Linked DNA regions of Homo sapiens. The protein of the gene in region 1 interacts with the protein of each later gene in a pairwise test. Each region holds a gene or a part of one and is shown on either strand. Other genes may lie near its edges.

What was found.
Region 2: the proteins of ODC1 (region 1) and MAP2K1 interact in a two-hybrid assay, tested with the Homo sapiens proteins (one large-scale study listed by BioGRID and IntAct).

What each region holds. Positions count from the first base shown.
Region 1 is NC_000002.12:10,445,263-10,449,771, reverse strand, and holds the start of ODC1 (ornithine decarboxylase), read left to right. Parts: upstream 1-1,444; 5' UTR 1,445-1,651; intron 1,652-1,759; exon of another isoform or gene 1,760-2,298; intron 2,299-2,922; exon of another isoform or gene 2,923-3,058; intron 3,059-4,507; 5' UTR 4,508-4,509. UniProt on the Homo sapiens protein: Catalyzes the first and rate-limiting step of polyamine biosynthesis that converts ornithine into putrescine, which is the precursor for the polyamines, spermidine and spermine.
Region 2 is NC_000015.10:66,484,412-66,487,911, forward strand, and holds part of MAP2K1 (dual specificity mitogen-activated protein kinase kinase 1), read left to right. Parts: intron 1-578; coding exon 579-780; intron 781-2,816; coding exon 2,817-2,881; intron 2,882-3,500. UniProt on the Homo sapiens protein: Dual specificity protein kinase which acts as an essential component of the MAP kinase signal transduction pathway.

The DNA.
Region 1 (4,509 bases):
ACAGGTATTCACTGACTGTGCCTCAGACCTGGTTTTGGGTACCAAGGAAGTTTTTCAAAACCTCACAGGGCTTTGTAGCTATAAAGATATGTAAGGATCCTTGGGTTATCTGAAGCCCAGAGAAGGGAGATAACTTGTCCAAGAGCACACAGCAAGTTGGGGGCAGCGCTGGGCCAGTGCTCTGAGCTCCTCCAACCCCGCCCCCACCCACCCAAGGCTAGATCTAGATCTACCCACTCCTCTCCTTAACTCTTCATCGGCTGTACTCCCACCCTAAGGAGTCGAAATCCCCACCCTAGGGAGAGACATATCCTGTCTGGATTGTCCAAAAGGGAATGAAAGGTAAAAATGAAAAAAAAAAAAAAAAGTGTCCCCAATTCAAGTGCAGTGCCTCCCTGGTGCGGGCATTCCAGCGTGGCCTGGAGTGAGTGGCAGTCCACCTCCAGAGGCGTCCCCTGGGCGCTCCTAGGGACTCGAATTTCCCACGCGGCTTTTTGCTTTATGTATTCACTGTTTAGACGTTTTCGGTCAAAGCATTTTGGGACTTCCGTAACTCTCAGAGCGCGCCAGGGAGCCGCCCTTAAAGATACCTAGTTACTGATGAGTTCCATCCGGTAAAGCAGAGGGTAGTGGGCGGCTTGGAGACTCAGGATCCGGGTCCCCTCACGCTCCTGGCTGAGTCCCTGGCTTCACAGGGGAAACTACCTCCGCAGGCCAGGACCCATCTAGTTACAGGATACCTCGATGTTACAAAGACGAGGCTTCCAGCGCGGGGGCGTGGAGGCGGCTGCCAGCCCTGCCCGCAGCGTGCTGGCGACCCCCGGGACGCCCCTTCCCTCCCGCGCCTCTGCTCCCTAGCTGGTGGGAGCAGAGCGGCACCGGGATCACTTCCAGGTCCCTTGCACCGGAGGAATGGGCGGCAGCAGGGTCCGGAGTCGGCCCGGCGGGGCCCACGTGGCCAGCACATCGGTCCTCCGCTCGCGATTTCCCTTTTCCGCTCTCGGGCACGAGGTACTGAACGCCAGGTGGAAGCACAGCTGTGCAGCTACAGGCTCTGCCGTTCAGCTGCCGCGGGCCGGGGCCGGGGCCTGCGGCGTCGTGCGCGTGCGCGGACCAGTTCCAGGCGGGCGAGACCGCCGCAGGGCGGGGCGGGGCGAGGCGGCCGCAGGGCGGGGAGGGCGGGGAGAGGCGGCCGCAGGGCGGGGAGGGCGGGGCGCGAAGCCGGGGGCGGGGGCCACGCGTGGGGCAGGCGGTGCTCGGCTCGGCTGACGTCGGCCCGCCGGCGCCCCACCAGCTCCGCGCGGGCCCGGGTTGGCCACCGCCGGGCCCCCGCCCCTCCCCCGGCGGTGTCCCGGCCGGAACCGATCGTGGCTGGTTTGAGCTGGTGCGTCTCCATGGCGACCCGCCGGTGCTATAAGTAGGGAGCGGCGTGCCGTGGGGCTTTGTCAGTCCCTCCTGTAGCCGCCGCCGCCGCCGCCCGCCGCCCCTCTGCCAGCAGCTCCGGCGCCACCTCGGGCCGGCGTCTCCGGCGGGCGGGAGCCAGGCGCTGACGGGCGCGGCGGGGGCGGCCGAGCGCTCCTGCGGCTGCGACTCAGGCTCCGGCGTCTGCGCTTCCCCATGGGGCTGGCCTGCGGCGCCTGGGCGCTCTGAGGTGAGGGACTCCCCGGCCGCGGAGGAAGGGAGGGAGCGAGGGCGGGAGCCGGGGCGGGCTGCGGGCCCCGGGCCCCGGGCACGTGTGCGGCGCGCCTCGCCGGCCTGCGGAGACACGTGGTCGCCGAGCGGGCCACGACCTTGAGGCGCCGCTTCCTCCCGGCCCGGGGTTCTCCCGCGGCTGGATAAGGGTGATCCGGGCGCCTCGTTCTGCCCCCGTCTTCACAGCTCGGGGCTGGAGGGGCCTAGGGGAGACCCACCCGGAGACCCTGCGGCCCCGCGCCGGCCTCTTTCCCAACCCTTCGGCGGCCGCGCGCTGGCCGGGGAGCCGTTGGGGAGGCCCTGGCGGCCGCGCAGCAGGTGCAGGGGCGCAGAGCCCGGGCTCGCCTTGGTACAGACGAGCGGGCCCCGGCCTTGGCGCCTTCAGTTTCCTTCCAGTTTTTATTTTCGCTGTGTCTACAGAGCAGATGACACCAATTTGGAAACCCGCGAGAGTGGGTAGAGCTAAGATAGTCTTGCTGTAGTAGCTGTGATATTAGATGCTCGGCCATGACTTAGAGGTGTTTATTTAAGGACTGTGAATGACTCGGTGATTTCGGAAAAGCTTGGCTTAGATGAACGGACATACACAGGGGAGACAGCCCTAAGGTTTGCAGAAAAGGCTGATTGTGCTGTTTGCGAAGTCGAAATAATTGGTGAAAGTGTAGAAGGCAGAACCTCTCAGGAATGTCTGGGGAGGACAAAGAATGTGTTGGCTGACTTTGTTTAAACATAAAATTGGGCAGACTTTAATTGATTTGTGAAATTTTTTTCAAAGTTTGTTTGAATTAGCCCCTATCTCTTCTAACATTATCCTCTTGTGCTAATTGATTGACCATTTTAAATAACTTAGCTGTTACAGAAAGACCGAAAGGTGTTCTTCAGTAAAATATATTCAAGTAAGTTACTTAAGTAACGCCTTAAAAGATACAGAAAAGCAAAAAAGTATTGGCGTATTAAAAAGAAATCAAAACTTTCCAAGTTTAGGCCTGAACATTGCCTTAAAAATATTTAATAAGGCCTCAAATGACCCAGTCCGAGACTGCATGAGCCTATTTATTATTAAATTGTAAATATTCTTCATATAAACAAAAATATATAACCATGTCTGTAACAAAAATGGTTTTGCTAGCGTTGTTACTCTCTTCCCTTCTCCGAGGGGTGATTTAGGCAACTTCGGAGGTTGACAATGCCAAGCAGTCACAATAGATAGAGCTTTAAAGCAAATTCTATGCATGGGTTTGGATTTATGACAGGCCCGTCACCCTGGGCCTGTCATAGTACCCCATGCCAGAGCAAACTGTGTCCCCGAACCATTGCCTGGCCTCTGTGCCCGTAGGCTGCTGGCACTGAAGTGGGTTGCACAGTGGAAAAGAAGAAAGCTCTACCTGGCAGAAATTTTTAAAGGTTAAAATAAATAATTTTAAGAAAGCTGGTTCACAAGGTGCCACATTTGATGAAAGCAAAATACAGTGGCTTTTATTGTTACTAGAGTGATGTTCTTGCTTGTTTTTCTTTTTTGGTGAAGTTAGCCCCAAATTATTCTCATAGCTAAGCAAATACGAGAGTGACTGTAAGGACAGTTGGCATTCCCGGAATTGCTAAACTTGGTAGGCAACGCTGGTTTAAGAATACTGAGTTCTAGCCGGGCGTGGTGGCTCACGCCTGTAATCCCAACACTTTGGGAGGCTGAGGCAGGCGGATCACCTGAGGTCGGGAGTTGGAGACCAGCCTGACTAACATGGAGAAACGCCATCTCCACTAAAAATATAAAATTAGCCAGGCCCCGGGTGTGGTGGCACATGCCGGTAATCCCAGCTACTCGGGAGACTGAGGCAGGAGAATCGCTTGAACCCAGGAGGCGGAGGTTGAGGTGAGCCGAGATCATGCCATTGCACTCCAGCCTGGGCAACAAGAGTAAAACTCTGTCTCAAAAAAAAAAAAAAAAAATACTGAATTCTGATCAGGTAACAGCAACTGTAATACAATGTGATAAGTTGACTTGAAGATTACAGTTTTTAAGAAGTATATACCCAGCTAATACATGAAAATTAACTCGTAAAATCTCAAATGCTCCAGACATTTCCATGATGCCTGTTGGTCAGTAAAAATCATTCTAAGACTTAGTGGAAGTAGGAAATGTTTGTATGGCTGTGTATAAAGGCTATAATGTAATCCCAGCACTTTGGAAGACCGAGGCGGGTGGATCACCTGGGGTCAGGAGTTTGAGACCCACCTGGACAACGTGGTGAAATCCTGTCTCTACTAAAAACACAAAAATTAGCCGGGCATGGTGGCAGGCGCCTGTAATCCCAGCTGCTGGGGAGGCTGAGGCAGGAGAATCGCTTGAACCCGGGAGGCAGAGGTTGCAGTGAGCCAAGATTGCACCGCTGCACTCCAGCCTGGGTGACAGCGTGAGACTCTGTCTCAAAAAAAATAAAAAAGTCTATAATGCTATTTTAAGTTTCTAAGGAACTGAAACTGCTCTGAAATAAATCAGACCATTATAAGACTTTTTTCCATATCAGTGAGCTAAGTGCAGATAAGCTTCTGAAACTTGCATGCTAGATTTTTTTGGTACAAATATTTGAAATGCTTAGTGTGCTGCCTTGGAAAAACCTGGTATTTTTTGTTGTGTCCTTATACTGCCAAGGTTTATGGAATCATGTACCTTATGCCTAGTAATAATTAGGATGACCAGGCCAGTGAGTGGTTCATATCCGGGGCATGATTAGCTCTGCGTGTGCTCAGCCAGTGCCCCATCTTCAACTCGATGTGTTCCTAAGGTAGACAGCAAATTCCCTATTTTATTTCTCAGAT
Region 2 (3,500 bases), on another chromosome or scaffold:
TGCTGGGATTACAGGTGTGAGCCACTGCGTCCCGGCCCAGCAGCAGCCCCATTTTATAGATGAGGCTGATATTCAGGATCTTTTAGCTTGTAAGTCCCGGAATTGGGATTTAAGTCTCAGGCCCACTGACCCCAGATCTTTTGTTCTATGTATCCACGGCACCACCTCACTCCCAACCCGCATTCCACAAGCTTCATGTTTCAGATTCAGTGACAAGATGAGCCTCTCATGCTGGGCTTCGGACAGGCTGCCCTGCGTGTGCAAGACTGTGGCCAAGCTGGGTAAAGCTGGAACCACAGGCTGTAGTGGCAGCCAGGGCACAGCTGATTACATGTGGTCTGTCAATTTAGGCCAGATTATAGGAGAAATAGAGCAGGGATGAGGGGTTAAAGCCACAGAAGCCAGCTAGGATTTGGTAAACACAGTGTTGGGGGTAGGCAGGAGGCCAAATTCAAGAGGTTAGTGGAGCTCTTGAAACAGGATATGAACTATTGAGAAGGGACAGAAGAGAAAATGCATTAGCAGACCCAGGGGTCCAAGTTAGGTTAGGTGATTATCACTGTCTGTCTCTCCTGCAGCCAGAAAGACTCCAGGGGACTCATTACTCTGTGCAGTCAGACATCTGGAGCATGGGACTGTCTCTGGTAGAGATGGCGGTTGGGAGGTATCCCATCCCTCCTCCAGATGCCAAGGAGCTGGAGCTGATGTTTGGGTGCCAGGTGGAAGGAGATGCGGCTGAGACCCCACCCAGGCCAAGGACCCCCGGGAGGCCCCTTAGCTGTGAGTAGCCTGGTGTGTCCCCATCTTGGACTGTTGGAGGGGAGGGTCCCTTACTTTCAGGGGTTTCTGGAGGGCTGATTCTCTGTACATTCTGCCAAGACTGATTCTCTGTCCCTGGATGCCAGGCTAGGGCCAGGGGAAGCAGCAAGGGTCTCCAGGTGGGTGTTGTTACTACCAACAACTTCCTACCATTTGTTGAGTACGTACTATGTTCTAGGTACTGCACTTAGGACTTTATACATTATCTAACCTTTTGTATTTATTATTTTTATTATTAAGGGTCTTGCTATGTCGCCCAGTGCAGTGGCTAGTCACAGTCTTCAACTCCTGGGCTCAAGCAGTCTTCCTCCCTCAGCCTCCAGAGTAGCTGGGACTACAGGTTATAATTTATTTGCGGGGGTTGGGAGGGAAGGGGCTCACTCTGTCACCCAGGCTGGAGTGCAATGGCATGATCACAGCTCACTGCAGCCTCAACCTCCCAGGCCCAAGTGATCTTCCTACCTCAGCGTCCTGAGTAGCTGGGACCACAGTCACATGCCACCATGCTCAGCTAGGTTGTTGTTTATTTTGTAGAGATATAGTCTCCTTATGTTGCTCAGGTTAGTCTTGAACTTTTGGGCTCAAGCAATCCTCCCGCCTCAGCCTCCCAAAATGCTGAGATTACAGGCATGATCCACCATGACTGGCTTCTAATTTGTGGGTTTTTTTTGTTTTGTTTTGTTTTTGATACTGGGTCTTGCTCTGTCACCCAGGGTGGAGTACAGTGGCGCCATCATGGCTTACTGCAGCCTTGACCTCTTGGGCTCAAGTGATCCTCCTGCCTCAGCCTCCTGAGTAGCTGAGACCACAGGCATGCGCCACCATGCCTGACTAATTTTTTTAATTTTTTTGTATAGATGAGGTCTCACTATGTTGACTAGGCTGGTCTGGAACTCCTGGGCTCAAGTGATCCTCCTGCCTTGGCCTCCCAAAGTGGTGGGATTATAGGCATGAGCCACTGCATTCTAATTTTTTAATCATGACTTTTGGTAGATTTATTTTTTATTGAGATATAGAATTCACATAAGACAAAATTCACATTTTAAAGCATGTAGTTCAGTGGTTTTTAGTGTATTGTTCCATGTTGTGCAGCCATCACCACTGTCTTATTCTGGAACATTTTCATTACCCCAGCAAGAAACCCCATCCCCCACTCCCCCCTGCCTGATCCACTGACAACCACTAATCTACTTTCTGTGTCCACGGATTTGCCTAGCATTATATAATTTTAATAGCATTTCATTTGTGATCACGACTATAATCTGAATTTTAAAGATGAGGAAACTGAGGCACAGTGCACTTGTCAAGGCCACATAGGCTTGCAAGTAGCCAAGTCTGACTCCCAAGATGATAAACACTGTGCAGTACCACCTGCCTCTCTGAATGTGAATACTGGGAAGTAAACCTGGTACTCAGGGAATAGCCTGACCTAGCCAACTGTTTTTTATGTAGCTCCTGTCTGGCCAGGGATACCTGCCCTGTACCTCCATGAGGTCCACATGAGAGAGAGCTTGTATAAAGGGGAAAGCAGAGGGGGCTAGAGGTAGCTGATGGCAGGTCATTGGAGGGGCTGGTGGCTGTGGCCTCTGAGGCTCGCCAGTGACTCTAGGAGACAAAAGGAAGAAACGCAACTTCATGGAGAATTAAAACTAAGTCCTTTAGTTATTTAGTTGCTATCTCATTTGTGCCTCTCTCAATAGAAGGAAGGGGGAAAGGACAGACATAATTATTATGTCTCTGCTTTACAAAACTCAGAACTTTGTTTGGCTCAGCAGTGAACTGATTTGCCAAAGGTTACGAACTTAAGATGTGGCAGAGCCCAGACTTGTACCCTGGCCTTTGCTGGTCCCCTCTGTGTTCAAGCCTTATCTGTGGCTGTTTAATGTTTATTGTCCATGACCCTGTTCTGGTCCCAGGGATCCATGCCCAACCCCTTGCCTCATATTAACAAGTAATCTGTTTCTGAGAAGTATTTTTTCTTTTTATAAAATTTGTAGCATACGGAATGGACAGCCGACCTCCCATGGCAATTTTTGAGTTGTTGGATTACATAGTCAACGAGGTAAGTACTGCCTGGTTTCCTTCACCTTGGAATTTACTTGCTCATCTTAAGAAAACACCCAGGTGGCCGGGTGCAGTGGTTCACGCCTGTAATCCCAGCAGTTTGGGAGGCTGAGGCGGGTGGATCACACGAGGTGAGGAGTTCGAGACCAGCCTGGCCAACAAGGCAAAACCCCATCTCTACTAAAAATACAAAAATTAGCTGGGCATGGTGGTGCACGTCTGTAGTCCCAGCTACTCGGGAGGCTGAGGCATGAGAATTGCTTGAACCTGGGAGGCGGAGGTTGACTCTGGGAAAAACAAAACAAAACAAAAAAACAAAAAAACACATCGCTGTCACAGGTTCAGTCTACTAGGGAGTTTAATTTAACCTCTCTTTACTGTATGCACAGCTTTATACTAAGCACCATGGGCTGTAGAAAAGCAGTTTCAGGATTAGTTCGTCGCTGCTTAAGGATTTGAGGGAGGCAGAGCATGTTGCATTTGTAGGAGTCAGAAAAAAAGCCATCCATCCTCTACTGCTGGGGACCTAGGCTAGGTGGTTCTGGGTGGTAGTCATATTAAGGGAAGGGATATCTGAGGTTAGATACGCCATTGCGTCTCCTAGTGTGCACTGCTTT